Regions from separate parts of the Homo sapiens genome. Here all the other regions are reported to be linked to region 1. Evidence: microRNA targets listed by miRTarBase, many of them from high-throughput screens and not tested one by one. Region 1 holds a microRNA gene; each other region holds the end of a gene's coding sequence. Distances are from middle to middle.

The links. The annotated mature microRNA hsa-miR-548ad-3p reads GAAAACGACAAUGACUUUUGCA and lies in region 1 at 1,893-1,914, opposite strand. An mRNA with a match to its seed (bases 2 to 7 or 8) in the 3' UTR can be bound and repressed. Matches are read on the target gene's strand: a 7mer-m8 pairs with bases 2 to 8, a 7mer-A1 pairs with bases 2 to 7 and ends in A, and an 8mer does both.
Region 2: miRTarBase lists ENTPD5 as a target of hsa-miR-548ad-3p. The part of its 3' UTR that is shown has no 7-base or 8-base seed match.
Region 3: the mRNA of ORC4 is a reported target of hsa-miR-548ad-3p. The part of its 3' UTR that is shown has no 7-base or 8-base seed match.

The regions. Positions count from the first base shown.
Region 1 is chr2:35,470,099-35,473,366 of GRCh38, reverse strand. It overlaps MIR548AD (microRNA 548ad), which reads right to left and starts at 1,962; the gene lies at 1,881-1,962. It also overlaps the pseudogene RNU6-1117P.
Region 2 is chr14:73,964,234-73,967,233 of GRCh38, forward strand. It overlaps ENTPD5 (ectonucleoside triphosphate diphosphohydrolase 5 (inactive)), which reads right to left. Exons shown (of 16, transcript NM_001249.5): 16 at 1-2,781. The coding sequence ends at 2,695. Among named protein-coding and RNA genes, the nearest start is that of COQ6, 15 kb to the left of the region's middle.
Region 3 is chr2:147,932,742-147,935,741 of GRCh38, forward strand. ORC4 (origin recognition complex subunit 4) reads right to left here. Exons shown (of 14, transcript NM_181741.4): 14 at 1-2,957. The coding sequence ends at 2,769. Among named protein-coding and RNA genes, the nearest start is that of ORC4, 86 kb to the right of the region's middle.

The DNA.
Region 1 (3,268 bases):
CAAATGAATTTAGTTACTGTTATTCCAGACCAGAAGACTGGAATACAATGACTCCTATCAGTTTACATTTCCTATTTGAAGGTAAAAGAGTTGTTTCTCTATATCATCTATTTGATCTTTCATTTCTCAAGATAAAGTTCACTGATTTCTGGAGGAATTATAAATAGAAGTAATCCATTTAGCTAAGACAAAAAAGACAATAGGACATATTGAAATTTTATTATAAAAAGAAACCAAATTTATATCCAAATAGAAAAAAAAGTTTCCTCATCATTCATGCATTATCCAGAAAATCTTAAAATTTTTAATAAAATTACCAGCCTCTCACCTGGGAATAGGTGTGTAAATATTTTATATGTTGTCTTTAACTTAATGAGTTATCATGGAATAGGAAGTTTTTAAGCCTGAATTACTCAGCACTATTCTACTTTTCCAATTCATTCAAATGTAATTTACTACTATTAAATTAGTATTAATTTATTTATTATTATACTTTCTCAATGGGGCCAAGCACAATGTTAAACATATGATATAGTTTTATTTATGTTTCATAATGTACGGTTTAATGGACACTAATAACCATTTGTGGATTTCTTGCATAATAATAACATACAGAACTCTAATAGTCATAGAAAACCTTCACTGAGTATTACCTATGCATCAGTGACCATAATTTGTCGTGTTCATGTGATATATTTAGCGATCTTCACAAGCTTATAATGAGGGAAATACTACCGGCATTATTCTTCTCAATAAAGATGAAGAAACAAACGCTTAGAGAGATTAAATAAGTTGCCCCAAGTCACTAACCCAGATATTAAGCAGCAATGTTGATACTGGTAGCAGACATGTCTGCCTCCAAAACCTGTACTTCTAACCAGTTAACATCTTTGTTTCTAATGTGTATGGCTTCTATGGGTACCCACATAGAATGGGTACATTGTTGAACATGACACATCTGTAGCCATGCTTCCCTCATTAGTCCATATCACAAAAGAAGAGTTGGTTTTCCCCATGTCTATTTCTCAACCCTCCGATTGTGCTCTGCCTTCTCTCTGTGTGTCAACTACTCCCAAATATTTAGGATATTCCTAGTTTTCTCCTCAGTGCATCACAACTCTGTATTCAGGGTTGTGCCTACCTGATAACCTTAACATCCATGCCATTGTTTCCCTTTTGATATGTGAGTTATCCTTAATAACTCATTCATGCTTACCACTCATATAAGTAAAATATGTCAATTCTAATTTTAAAGTAAAATACACCCACTTGTCTCTATCTTCATGTCTTCCTTCACTTTAGTCCAATTCATAGGCTTCTAAACCAGCCATCTAAAATCCCTTTGCCTTCATTTTTTCTCCTTATATTTGTTCTCCACACAGCAGCCAGGTTGACTGTTTTTTAAAACACACAAAGTTAAGCAGTTAACAGACTGGGGCCATACTCCACGATGGCTGGTTGAAGAAATTCACCATTCTGTAGGAACTAGGATTTGTATGGCTGCCTGAAGATCCATGAATATTGACTGCTGTGGAGCAATCCCCCTTCCCGCTCCAAATCCTGGTTTCTGCACCATGCCTCCACTGGGAGGGCCTCTCATTCTACCAACCGGCCCACCTCGAGGGCCTCCAGGACACTGAAGACAATTATCTCATGGGAAAAATATGGAACGCTTCATGAATTTGCATGTCATCCTTGCACAGGGGCCATGCTAATCTCTATATTATTCCAATTTTAGTATATATGCTGCTGAAGCAAGCACCAAACTAATTTTTTACGTGAGTAATACCTACATATAAACTACAACATACATGCACATAGACACTAAAACAGTACAAACATAGAGTGAAAAGTTAAAATTCTTCCCACAACTGTTGATTGTATTAGATTGGTGCAAAAGTCATTGTCGTTTTCGCCAAGTTACTTTCAAAAACCACAATTACTTTTGCACCAACCTAACAGTTGACACGTATGTGAAAATTGTTGTGTTTTGATCCTGGATCCTTATAGAATTCTTGTAACTTTGCTTTACCGCAACTGAGTACATTGACTCTTGGAATAAAAATTATATTTTCTGTAAAATATATGTTTAGGTTATTTATTAACTATATATAAATTTTCCTTTCGATTTATTGTATTGGCTAGATCCTGAAGATGATGCTGGGTAGACACTGTGAAAGAGGGCATCCTTCTGTTTTTCCCAATTTAATGAGAATGCTTCTGAAAGTTCATATATGTGTATTGAAGTTTTTAGAGGATTCCATTCATTAAACAGAGGAGTTGCTTTCTTCTCTCAGCATGGTAAATGTTGGGTCAATGAAAAAAGAAAATGTACTGTATACACACAATGGAAAACCCTTCAGCCATAAAAAAGAAGGAAATCTTGTTCCTGATGACAACATAAATAAACGTGGAAAACCTACGTTGAGAGAAATGTCAGGAACACAAAGACAAATACCACATAATATCACTTATATATGGAATCCAAAAAAGTTGAACCCACAGAAGCAAAATGGTGGTTTCCAGAAGCTAGGGGATTGGTCTAGCAAGATGTTAGTCAAAGGATACAAAATCTCAGCTGGAAGAGATAAGTTCAAGCATTCTATTGTATAGTATGATAACTATAGTTAACAACAATCTACTATAAGCTTGCAAATTACTGAGTACACTTTAAATTTCTCACTACCAAAAAAAAAAGTATGTGAGGTAATGTATGTATAAAGTAGCTTGATTTAGCCATTTCACAATGATTTGACAGATATAGCAAAATATCATCTGGAACACCATAAATAAATACAATTTTTATTCGTCACTATACAAAAGGAGCTGATCAATAGTAACAATTGTTGAAAATATTTTAACTGGATCTGAGACATTACGAATTTTTGTAGAAGTGCATTAGGGAAGTGCCTTAGGAAAGAAAATTTTTTTATTCCAGGTGTGGTTGATAGAGTTGAATTACAGTAACATTTTGTTTTAAATAACCTTTTTAAAAAATACATAGCTAGGTGTGGTGGCACAGAGCTGTTGTCCCAGCTGCTTGGGAGGCTGAGGCAAGAGGATTGCTAGACCCAGGAGTTTGAGTCTAGTCTGGGCAACATAGTGAGAACCCATCTCTTAAAAAATAATTACTTTTTTAAACCTAAGAAATTAGCTCTAGTTGGTCAAAAAGTATAATTATTTTAAAATTACTGCACTTATTTGATATATTTTAAAATGTGAGTATTTGTATTCATGTTCACATTGAACATCATAAATGAAATTTTCA
Region 2 (3,000 bases), not on the chromosome of region 1:
TGTCACGTACCAGGCCATGTCCTAAGTATTTTAAATATGTTAACACATCTACAAAGAGGAAACTATTAGAATCTGTAGGACCTCTTAAGCCCAAAGGGTCTACTGCAGGCAGGATGGGCGTTACAGAAAAAAATAAAAACTCTCATTCCAAATTGCTCCTAAGATGGACAAATTGGTTACTTCTCCAGAAGGTCTAATCAAGGTTAACAAAATAGGTAAGTTCGTGGAGTTAGAATGCATCTTCCCTGGAGTTCAGAGGTATTTGGGATGACCAAAGGAGTCTGCTGGACAGTATGTGTGTTTTACAAAATGGCCCCCACAGTGATTAAAGACCAGAGACTTATATCTCTGCATTTGTCAAGCTGGAACAGTCTTTAGTGAACACAGCTTACCTCTTTTAAAACTGCTGGTTTCTACTGAAGGAAACATGGATGACATTTAGTGTTCTGTGACTGGTCTGGCACCCTACTTTTGTTGACAAAGATGGGAAGGGGTCTAAAAGTCATGTCACTTATAAAAGAACTTGGGAGGAACTTTTTTCAAAAGATCCAAAGATTTTGGAAGGAGAGATTAGAGCAGAACTAAGACCACTTAGAAGATAGGTAGATTTCAGCTCAATATAAGGAATTTTTTTTAATATCAGTGCAGTTCCAAATGGAATAAGCTGTTTGAACATGGCTTAGCAGAAGCTGAATGACAACCTGTTAGAAATTCTAGGGAATTCTGCACTGAGTACAACATTGGATTATTTCTTTGGGCTGTTTCCAACTCAAGATTCTGTTATTTCATTATAAGCATTTTGAGGAAGGCAGTTGGTATAAAGGTGACCTTAGTAATAAAAGTCAGTGTGAAGTCTAAAGAAATTCCACAATGAATTTAAAGACAAGAATTTTAGGGACAAGGATACAGAAATTTGCCTAGTAACTTGCACACAGCAGATGGTAAATATTTATTGACTCAATGGAGTAATGTTAAAAATAAGGTTTCCCATGGACTGTGTGAGGGCCAGGCATACTTAACATCCTTTGTGAGAGAGAGGATGGAAACGGAGTCTACTGTGAAAGCCACAAGTTTTGGGGAAATACACTCCTGCAAAGAAGCTGGAGGTTAACAACCAAGGCAAAGGGGCCAGACCACAGGGAGATCTTCCAGGTCCAAGAGCACTGCAGGGCAGATGAGAAGCAGGGATGATTATGTTGAAAGTGCAAGATAAGGCCAGGCGCGGTGTCTCATGCCTGTAATCCCAGCACTTTGGGAAGCGGGTGGATCAATTGAGATCAGGAGTTGGAAACCAGCCTGGCCAACATGGTGAAACCCCATCTCTACTACAAATACAAAAATTAGCCAGGAATGGTGGTGGGCACCTGTAATCCCAGCTCTTCAGGAGGCTGAGAACAAGAATCGCTTGAACCTGGGGGCGGAGGTTGCAGTGAGCTGAGATTGCGCCACTCCACTCTAGCCTGAGCAACAGAGCAAGACTCCATCTCAAAAAAAAGTGCAAGATAATGAATTTGGGGTAAATAATTCACAGTCAAGAGCTCTGAGCACTTGGATTCAAAAAGAGAGCATGAGGGACATTAAATATGGTTCTCCCTGGAAATGTTGGTCCACTGTACTGATGTGGGCTGAGAGAGCCAACCAAATCCAAGTGGGGTTTTGTCAGGAACGGTATTGGAAACTCTGAACTAGATAAATAATTCAAAGGATATTAGCTAAAGTGATCAGGGACCAGGACAGGAAGGTACTGTTACAAACGGAGAGAATAAAAGGGCAAACTGAAATAATAGATCCTGGAATAGCACAGACACTGACCTCTGACCACAGACCAAAAGTTAGGGCCTAGTTGTATTTCTTAGAAATACAAAGAAAACAAGTTTAGAATCATAGAAAACACTGTTAACACATTAGCCTGGGAGGTGGTACTGGCACTGAATATACACATACCCATAAAGTCGGATATGTTCATTAATCCCAGAGTTGACTGATAAAATGCTGATTAAAGCAAAGGTAGGCTATATGAGGCAGCCACACCCTCCCAAAACATGTCCCCAGAGACCGGGTGGCCTTCTTTCTTAAGGCTGTAATTTATGCACAGTTAGGAGTTACTCTCTCATCCTATTAATATTTAGGATGGCTCTCAGCTGGCTGATTGGAGCTAACACAGAATAGGATCATACAGATTCTGACATGGTCCCATTTTGCGTTGTTGAATTATACATGGAAAGCAAAACCAGGTTTTTTTTTTTCTCTCTTTTTCAGGGGAGGTGGGTGCAGATAAGGGTGGGCAGGGCACTGTATAGGGAGGAAAAAAATACTGATATTGATGGGTCTTGGGATTGCAATAAGTCAGTTTACCATTTAAGAGGAAAATTTAAATATTCAGTGGAATGAGGCACTCAAAGGGTTGAAATGCGATTTTTCTTTGGTTTCCAGGGACCTGTCCCTGGGCTCTCACTCCAAGGTTAAGTTCCAAAACTATACTTTTTGGCTCACAGGGCTCTCTGTGATGCTCTGGTGCCAGCTGTGTACTCTTGAGTGGTTAGGCAGCAGTTCACATTAGATGTGTAAAATTAATTAAACCTAAATCTCTAGGCTCAAGTCCAGGATGTCCCCAGACTAGTTCAGAAACTAAGTGCTCTCTCCTCCCCTTAAAAAGGTGTTGGCAAATGCAGGTCTCCAAGGAAGTACGTGGCCTCAATGGGAGATGCCCAGAGACTGCAACAGGTGAAAGGTGGCCCCCAAGGCCCAGCCCGTCTCTATGTTGTTCACTTTCTTTGTGAGCTGTTGAGAAGAAAAAAAGTCTTCACCTTTTCATCCAGTTTCCAACTCTAGCAAGCACAGCTCTTGGGCAGAAAATATTGGCAAAGAATATCCACATGGGCAAACCAAGGCAAAACGGACAGAAGCCAGTCTTTGCAGGCTTCCCACTACTCTGTAACAATTTCCTTCCGGCCATGGCCCATTGGCCATTGCCCCTACACCCACCATTCTCATATCTGA
Region 3 (3,000 bases), 110 Mb from region 1:
CTCAGATTTTCTAGGGTAAAGGTGAAGGATGGGGCAGCACTTAGGTTATGGTGGTTTGAAAGAAACTGAATTGCTTTCTAAACCAGATGAGGATCAGAGTGCGAACCATGGTGAAATATGCATGGAAACTACAGAAAGACTGAAGTGTTTCTTACGGTGTTTTCTGCAAAACGTGATTCATTAGGACATTAACAGGTATTACGTTTTCAACATATACAGCATTATGATACAGTAAGTTTGGACCAAACAGGTATTCATTCCCCAGAGCCTTTCACATGCACGAGAATCAGTCATTTTAACAAGAATTCCGTTTCTGCTGGGCCACTTGGATCCCTTGGATTCAGATGTAAAAACACACTGAAATATTCCTCCTTTCACCTGCTTTTCAGTTTGAGGTAATCAGATTGAAAAGCAGGAGTTCATGCATTTTTTGGTTCTATTTTTCCTCCTCTAGTAAATGAAGAAAATAAGCTATATGTATAAGTTTACATTATTCTTGAACCGCTTTTTAAACTAGGGTTTTTCATATTTGTTTTTATTGATGACAATTAAAGCAATTTAAGAGACGAAGTTAGCTCAAAACTCTTGCGAATAGATTTTAGCATTTTTGTATGAGGGAATATGGAAAGGCCAACAAGCAGCACTGTTCCTCCCCACAAAAATGCCTTGGGAATATAATAGGCGTACACTTCATTTGTGTAACTTTTCCTAATGTATTTTTTTTTAATTTGCTTTATAACGGTTTCATGTTTACCTCAATTGGTACTTAGTCTTAAAATCTTTCTTTATACTTGGTTATTGATGGATCTTCTGCAGCTCTTATGTAGCCAATGAGACAGATGAGGGCTGTCAGCTTTTAAGTGACATCTTAAGCTAATAAGAAATTGGAATCCTCAAGTCATTTCATGAGGCTGTTACCCTTTAAGACAAATAATACTTTCCTCAAATAGTTCAGAAAATTTTTAAAAGGATCACTTAGAGCATAAGTGTAAAATTCTTGCTTCTAGTATATAATAGTGATGTTACCATGTCAAGTATTTTGGTGAAATATCCCCTAAAAATGTGTAGACTACGGCACAGATTGAGTATGCAAGCCTTAGCTTGAATGAGACTGCTGAGAAGTAAATGACAGGGATCTGAATACTTAGCAGGCTTAACTTTTTGCAGGGAAGGAAAGGCTATGTATGCAAAAGAATAGGTTGTAACTACTGAAGAGCTACTTTATGCTCAGAAACCTTTTATTCCACTTTGTATCCAAGATTTCATTAAAACATTGTTCCTTAGAGCATACTTTAAAAACTATTTGGTAAGGAATCCACTGTTGAACTTCAGGTCTTAATAGCACTGGCTTTGGTGCTAAACTGAGTTGAATTCCAAGCCTGTTGGCCATTCCCAGCATTGCCACTGCTGTGTTAGTTTTCTCATCTGTAAATAACTGCCTACATCTCACAGGGCCTCTAATAGTTAAATAGATTGTAAGCTGCACAAGCATAGGGACAGTCTGTCTTTTGTAAACCTCCCATGCACACAATAGGAAATCAAATATTCTTGAACAAATGAAGTCACTAAGTGCTCATTAAATTTCATTTTAAATATATGCCTCTGTTAATTCATGGATCTTGGAACTTACTTAAAAGACAATGCTTTGACGGACATTTCCACATTCCTCATAGGGATTTACTTTTTAATACAAACAGGTTCAGTTAACATTGCCATACACATCTCATTACTTTTGGGAGTGCTTTTCCAGAAATCTCTGGTAGTCACGTCACTTCATGATGGGGCTACGTTCTGAGAAATGTGTCTTTGGGTGATTTCATCACTGTATGAACATCACAGAGTATACTTACACAGACCCTGATGATATGTATATAGCCTGTTACACACTTAGGCTATACAGATAGCCTAGCCTATTACTCTTCAGCTATAGCACTGTACAGAATGTTACTGTAATCATACTGTAGGCAACTGTAACACAATGGTAAAACATTTGTATATTTAGACATAGAAAAGGTACAGTAAAAATATGGTATAATCTTATGAGACCACCCTTTATACAATGTCATTGACCAAAATGTTACGTGGTGCCATGACTATACTTGTTAAGAAGGAAAATTCCAGTCCTTTTGACCTATGGTAGGCTCAACAATCTGTAATTTTAGAAAATCCTACAAGGGATTCTGATGTGGATGGTATGAGTACCACATTTTGAGATGTCTAGAAGAAAAATCTTCAAACTCCTTGGCCTTTTTCTTCCATGGAACCATCTTCTGACTAAGCTGGTTAGTCTTCTGAACTAGAAAACCTGGGTCTGGGATAGAATCCAAAATTTGCATGTGGACAGAAAAAAACACTGCAGCAAACCTGCTGTACCAAAGGTTACTTATTATACTTCAGTGCTTACCATTGTTTTTTTTACTCCTTTGGTTTAAGGTTTGTAAAGACATCTAGCTGTTAGGTTGAAGTGAGCTCTTCAAATAGACCATTATATATATAAGTGTTAAAAAAGCACATGGTCTAGTCCCTAAAACAGTCATATTTTATTCTTCTGAACAGCTACTTACAAAGTAATCTCAATCAGTGAAATTATAAATCATGTAACTGTTCATGATTAAAAGGCAAGACACAGCCAAGACAGTAGATGGGCAAGTCTCACATAAATACAAGAATGTTTATAGAATGTTTAGCATATCATGTTAATGGACAATAGTTTTCCGTTCTCTACAGAAGTATGAATGAAATGCCAAAGTTGAAGTCACTGGTTATATTCATAACCAGCTTAGTGAGGATGTTGCCCACTGCCTCACATCTGTAGGACAGTTGGGATATTTCTGCAGAGCATTCATAATTTGAGTATTATCCAAAAGCAGTTTCATCAGCTGGTACTCTCTCTGTGAATTTCCTGAAGTTCTTTCCATGGGCTTTATTAATTCTAATTGCTGCAAGTGTTCAAAAGCCTGAAAGATGAAAGAAATAGTTTAGGTTGAATAGGAGAGGAGA